2 linked regions of the Homo sapiens genome follow. The protein of the gene in region 1 interacts with the protein of each later gene in a pairwise test. Each region holds a gene or a part of one and is shown in the gene's direction. Other genes may lie near its edges.

Region 1 (3,500 bases):
TTTCCCTCCTCCTCACTTGTGATAACCCTGTGATGCATAGGTACATTTCAGCAGCCTCAGGACTGAGACTCTGGAAAGCCCTGCATTCGTGATGTGACATTGAAGTGTGCCCCATGTGTGTGCACTTGAGGCATTTGCTCAGCCCTCTGGAGCTGGTCGTCTTCTGGCCAGGGTGCTGTTCCATGTTTGTGGCTGAGTGACCATTGCGTATTCTTCATGCCTTTGAACTTTTTCAGGGAGCGCATGGAGCTTTTGGAAGAAGCCAAGAAGATGGAGATGGCCAAGTTTCGCTACATCCTGCCTGTGTATGGCATCTGCCGCGAACCTGTCGGCCTGGTCATGGAGTACATGGAGACGGGCTCCCTGGAAAAGCTGCTGGCTTCGGAGCCATTGCCATGGGATCTCCGGTTCCGAATCATCCACGAGACGGCGGTGGGCATGAACTTCCTGCACTGCATGGCCCCGCCACTCCTGCACCTGGACCTCAAGCCCGCGAACATCCTGCTGGATGCCCACTACCACGTCAAGGTGGGGGGCCGCACGGTGCCCGAGAGAGCTGGGCAGGGAGGGCCTGTGTCTTGGGGAGCAGGGTATCAAGGGGTCAAGCCCTGAGGTCAGGACAAGGGCAGAAGAGGAGGTGGTTCTTCTTGGAGGAAAGAGCTTGAAACCGAGGCCTTTTGCAGCATGAGGACTCCAGGAGCCTAAGCTTGTCCTGGTTGGTATGAAAACCACACGCCATGTAGCTGGAGGGTAGCTTGGTGAACATGGGGGCTGTTCCCCCAAATCTTGGCATATGACTCATTCCGGAAAAAGATTACGGGTTTGTGGGTTTTGGTCTTATGAAATCAGGTTAGAATTCAGCCCGTGGGCCAGGTGTGTCCTTGCGAGACCTTAGGCTCTGCAACAAAGGGACGCATTTCCCTCAGTGTTTTCAGGAGCTCGGGGTGGTGGGAATGTGGGGGTCCTCTGCAGTGGGGTCCTCAAAGTGCTGTGGAAAGAGGCTTGTGAGGAGGGGCTCGTTGCCTCTGTCTGCCCCTGCGTAGAGTGCGGAGTGGCAGCGTGTTGCGTTAGTGCAACGCCTGGGAGATGGAGCTTGCTTTTGCTTCGCTGATAGGTTTTTGAAACACAGAAAAGTAAGAGAGATAATGTAACTGAAAACCAGTGTTGCCTCTGGGCCTTGGCAGGTGTTAGCATCATCACCTTTGCATCAGGGCTGTATTTCCTTGTATCTCCTTTGATGGCCTTCGTGGCTAGGGTTGTACTGTCGTTGACATGTGGTGGTTACACCTGGCGCGTTGTAGTTTTTCCCCACGTGGTGATGTTCACATGCTCTTGGGAGGCCCAGGGTGATAGGCTGGTCCACATGACACTGGTGTCTGCCCTGGGAGTGAGAAGGAGCCGAGAGCCATGGTCCGGATCCATGTAGTTCATGCAGGGGACAAGCAGAGGAGTCCCCTGCCTGGCTTGGCTGTGCTACTGTTCCTGGTGGCACAGCACTTCCAGGCCTCTCTGATGGCCTGACCATTAATTAGGAGAGACCTGAATTCAGGGCCCGGCCCTGCCCCTGAGCTCTTGGGTGGGACGGGAGCGGTGGCTCGTATGGCATGCGCACGGCCGCTCCCTGTGCCCAGACTCTGCGGACGAGTGCATCTCGCGTGCCTTGCTCAGCCAGGGCGGTGGTGAGGAGGTCAATTTTTCACTTCGGGCAGTAATTATAAGTTGTCTCTTAGGTAGGTGTTGCGCAGTAATAAGATTTCAGCTAGAAGATGAAGCACCGTCCTGCGAAGTGAAGTAGGAAATTGAGATAATGGAGACAAAAATCAAATGACTTGGCTTGAACGGGCTCTCTGGTGGTTTCCCGCATCTGCTTATGTTCTGGGACCCCTGGGATTCCCGTTTCCTGTGATGGGCAGGGCTGGGCCTCACATGCGGACCCCCCATTCCCGCCAACATTTACGGGCTTGTTTCTAGGTAGCACAGGCTCTGGGGCCCTAATGACTAGTAAGCTCTGCCGTCCAACGTGCACTGAATACCGGAAAGGACATGCTAGAGGCTTCACCTGCGGGAGCTGCCCTCATCCTCAGAGCAGAGGTGCAGAGTGGACGGTGGCCTCTGGTTCTCGCTGAGTCTCTGCTTAGAGTGAGTAAATTAGCAGCCAGGATCGTCCAGCTGTAAGTCACGGAGCAGAGACCTTGATTTCCACCTGGCCTGCCACTGTGCTTGACATGAAAGAAACCAAATGACCACTGCACGTAGCAGTCACTTGGGGGCAGGGTGTGTGGCCCGCAGGCTGGGCCTAGAGGCGGCCCTGTGGGAGGGGGTGGGAGTGCTCCTGGGGCTGGGCCTTCACACAGGGTGGGGCTTTTCTGCCCTCAGGAGTCGGGGCAGGCAGCAGCAGAGCCTTTAGGTGAAGGAAACAGCCCAAGAGACGCAGAGAGCTCTGGGCCTTCCTGCAGGGGCAGCAGGCAGCAGGGCTTCCCTGTCTTTCAGGACAGCTGCAGGGGGCGGATGCTGCCTGGAACTGCTTTCTCAGGGAGGCTGCTGTCGAAGGCACGCTGGGTGCTGGCCAGGAAGTGACAGGACATCTCTGTGTGGTGCCCCTGGGACATCTTAGGGCCCTGTGTACCCTGACAGGCCGCAGGAAAGATTGCTTTTGTGTGGCGTCCTTCTTAATCAGGCATGTTAGTCACCATCAAGAAGCCCAAAAACAAACCGAAAAATACCTTTACGTGACATACTTATTTTTTCTGTGAAATAGCTACTGGTGTGCGTAGAGTGCAGCAGGGAGTGTGTGTCGGGGTTCTGAGAGTCAGCGCCTTTGTTCCTGAAGACGAAGTGTGGAAGCTTTGCATGGACTGACCACTGGGCTTCTGGGCAGTCCTCAGTAGACAGTTATTCAATGCAGGAAAACTGTAATCCAGAATCCTGCAATTAGATCCTAAGTTGCCATTCCAGTGCTGCCATTCGCCTCTGAGATGGGCTCCCTCAGTGCTCAGGGCTCGATTCAAACTGGAAATATCACAGCAACTGTCTACTTCATGAAGCAGTTAAATGTAAATAGTATACAAAGTAATAGTATCAAATTAATGCTTGATATTATTCAACATTACATATACTAAATACCAATATTAAGATACTAGTTGGAATCAATTTCAACTTAAAAATGAAATAACTTGGTTTAAAATCTCAGGCTGCATTTATATGTCCAGTTAGCCCAAAACAGACGCTTTTCAAAGGGTCACACGCGGGTCACGTTCTGCTGTGTCTTTCTTTTAGAGGCAGCAAAACCCCGGCAGGCTGCTTTCTTAGTCTTGACAGCTGGACCTTGAAGTTGAAGGGCCATGTGCTTGGGGGCAGCTGTGAGCCCTCAGCTCTTGGAGATGCAGAGTCGGGTGCTGATGAGAGTGTTTGTAACTCTTGAAGCATTTGCTGGTCAGAGTGGATGCCACAGTAGCTCGCTGTTGAGGACACGGGGTGAGGGGCAGCTTGGGTGGGAAGAT
Region 2 (3,500 bases), on another chromosome or scaffold:
TAACATTCCAAAATCTCAAAATTCTAAAACGTACCTGGTTTATCTTTATGTTTCAGATGGACTTATTTCACAGTCATGTATGTAATCTTACTGATATTCAGATCTTAAGGGTGAAGAAGGCCGGGCGTGGCGCCTCACGCCTATAATCCTAGCACTTTGGGAGGCTGAGGCGGGTGGATTGCCTGAGGTCAGAAGTTCAAGACCAGCCTGACCAACATGGCAGAACCCCATTGCTACTGAAAATCCAAAAATTTTAGCCGGGCCTGGTGGCGCATGCCTGTAATCCCAGCTACTCGGGACGCTGAGGAAGGAGAATCACTTGAACCCGGGAGGTGGAGATTGCAGTGATCTGAGATCGTGCCACTGCACTCCAGCCTGGTGTGATGGGAGCGAGGCTCCATCTCAAAAAAAAAAAAGAGAGGAGGAAAGGATAAATATAACTCACTAGTAAAGTGGAGATTTCAGTAGCAGTTGGATATATGAGTCTGGAATTTGGGGAGAGTTGTTACATGTAGATAGTAGTTGAAGCCATAGGAGTCAAATCACTATATTTACCTCTCTGCTATTACTACATCATTTTAAACTTTTCCTGTCTCCCCATTATATTGGGAGGTCCTTAAAGACAAGAATTTTATAATACACATCTTGCCAGCACATAGCATAACGACTGCCACATTGTAGATAAGCAACGTGTTTATAGAATGAATTAATAGTTAAATTAATGCATTTTTTCTTTTCATATAACCATAAATTTTATTGCTAGAAAACATACCCCAGAAATCATCCCATCTGAGCTCTTTCTTTAGGTCTTTGATACTTTTTTTGTTGTTGTTGTTGTTGAGAGAGGGCCTCACTCTGTTGCTCAGGCTGGAGTGCAGAGGCACAAACATGGCTTACTGCAGCCTCAACCTCCTGGGCTCGTGCTGTCTTCCTGCCTTACCTTGCAAGTAGCTGGGCCCACAACTATGCCCAGCTAATTTTTTGATTTTTTGTGTGTGTGGAGACAGGGTCTCACTTTGTTGTGCGGGCTTGTCTCAAACTCCTAAGCTCAAGTAATCCTCCTGCCTCAGCCTCCCAGAGTGCTGGCATTACATGTGTGACCCACCATGCCCAGCCCTATGACCCATTTTGAGTTCATTTTGTTTATAGTGCAAGGGATTGGGGTACAACTTTATTATTTTGCTTGTGGATATCCATTGTCTGAGCAACATTTGTTGAAAAGAGTGTTCTTTTTCCATTGAATTGTCTTGGTGTCCTTTCTGAAAATCAACTGACCATAAATTCAATGGTTTATTCTTGACTCTCACTTTCATCTCATTTTTGTATATGTCTGTCGTTATGCCAGTACTACACATTTAATTACTATAGCTTTGTAATAAGTTTTATTTATTTATTTATTTATTTTTTGAGATGGAGTCTCGCTCTGTCGCCCAGGTTGGAGTGCAGTGGTGCCATCTCAGCTCACTGCAACCTCTGCCTCCCAGATTCAAACAATTCTCCTGCCAAGGCCCCCCGAGTAGCTGGGATTACAGGTGCCTGCCACCATGCCCAGCTAATTTTTTTTTTATTTTTAGTAGAGACAGGGTTTCACCATGTTGGCCAGGCTGGTCTCAAACTCCTGACCTCAGGGTGATCTGCCCAACTTGGCCTCCCAAAGTGCTGGGATTACAGGCATGAGCCACTGCGCCTGGCCTGTAATAAGTCTTAAAATCAGGAAGCGTGTGTATTCTTTCTAAACAAATGAAGAAACTAAAGCCACAGAGCCTAAAGTTAAGTAAGAAAACTAGTAGAGTCAGAAGTAGACCTAAGTTAGCCTCATTCACAGTACCTTTCTTTTTTAATATCTTGTAGTACAGGTAGACCATCCCTAATACAAAATCTGAAATGCTCCAAAATCCAAAACTTTTTTAAATAGAGACAGAGTCTTGCTATGTTGCCCAGGCTGGTCTGAAGCTCTTGGGCTCAAGCAATCCTCCTGTCTCAGCTTCCCAAAGTGCTGGGATTACAGGCATGAGCTGCCACTCATGGCCAGTGAGCATCTTTTCTTACACTTATTGATCCTATAGTTTTTCTTCTTGAATGCCTATTCTTGTCTTTTGACCTTCTTTTAATTGTCTGTCCTTTTCTTACTGATTCATAAGATTTCTTTACGTGTCCTTTGTCTTTTATATGTGCTGTAGATATCTTCTCCATATTTGTTCTATTATTATTTTTTTCACTTTGTGATATCTTTTGTTAAATATGTTTTTTTCATTTTATGTTTTATGCTGTCTGAATTTTATTCAACTCAGCAAATATTTGTTGAACACCTGCTATGCACCATTCTAGGCACTGGAGATATAACACTGAACAAAATAAACAAAAATCCCTGCCTTTGTGAAGCTTACCATCCTACTTGAGAAAGGAAAAGAGAAAGAATAAAGAATTACATGAACAAGGCTAGGTGCAATGGGTCATGCCTGTAATATACTTTGGGAGGCTGAGGTGGGCTCATTGCTTGAGCCCAGAAGTTCAAGAACAGCCTGGGCAACATGGCAAAACCCTGTCTCTACAAACAATGCAAAAATTAGCTGGGCATGGTGGCGCCTGTAGTCTCAGCTACTTGAGAGCTGAGATCAAGGATCAATTGCTTGAGCCCAGGAGGCAGAGGTTGCAATGAGCCGAGATCATGCCACTGCACTCCAGCTGAGGTGGACACAAGCAAGTCCTCATCTCTCAAAAAAATAAAAAGAATTACATGAATGAAATACAAAGTGGGTCAAAAGCGATAGTTATGGCGAAGAAGAAAAGAAAAAAAAGACGGGGAAGATGTGAATAGGCAGTGTGGGGATAGGGAGGGGTGTTATTTTAGTAAAATGGTTAGGAAAGGCCTAACTTAGAAGATGACATTTGAGCAATAGCTTTAAGGAGGTATTTGGGCATAGGGCCCAAGTTCTAAGAAACTGATATGGGAGCAAGCTTGATATGTTCAAGAAACATCAAGTATGGATTAACTGGAATAAGTGGGCTTGGCGTGTAGCAGTAGATTAGGTCAGCAATGTAATGGGACAAGATTCTTTAGGACTTTGTAGACCATTGTAAGAATTTTTGCTTTTCCTCTTGAGCAAGATGGGAAACCACTGGAGGGTTTTGAGTGGAGTAACATAATCTGACTTCAGACTCACACAAGCTCCTTTGTTGAAAATAGACCAGGAGGCAAGCGCAGAAGCAGAGAAAGCTTTTGGGCTTTTGCAGTAATCCAAGGGAGAAATGATGATGATACTAGCCAAGTAGTCCAGTCCAAGTGTGAGAAGTGGTCAGATTCTAAATATATGTTGAAAGTAGAATTGAGAGGATTTAGCAGACCAGTTGTTTGTGGCAAGAGAAAAAGACAAATCCAACTGTAATGTTTTTAAGCCTGAGTAGCTGGGAGGACAGATTTGTCATTTATGTAAATTGGAAAGATTGCCTGGAGAACAGGGTTTTGTTTTTTTTTTTTTTAATAGGGCGAGGGATATATG

The links.
Region 2: the proteins of RIPK4 (region 1) and PREPL interact in a two-hybrid assay, tested with the Homo sapiens proteins (one large-scale study listed by BioGRID).

What each region holds. Positions count from the first base shown.
Region 1 is NC_000021.9:41,753,553-41,757,052, reverse strand, and holds part of RIPK4 (receptor-interacting serine/threonine-protein kinase 4), read left to right. Parts: intron 1-236; coding exon 237-528; intron 529-3,500.
Region 2 is NC_000002.12:44,351,495-44,354,994, reverse strand, and holds part of PREPL (prolyl endopeptidase-like), read left to right. Parts: intron 1-3,500. UniProt on the Homo sapiens protein: Serine peptidase whose precise substrate specificity remains unclear. Does not cleave peptides after a arginine or lysine residue. Regulates trans-Golgi network morphology and sorting by regulating the membrane binding of the AP-1 complex.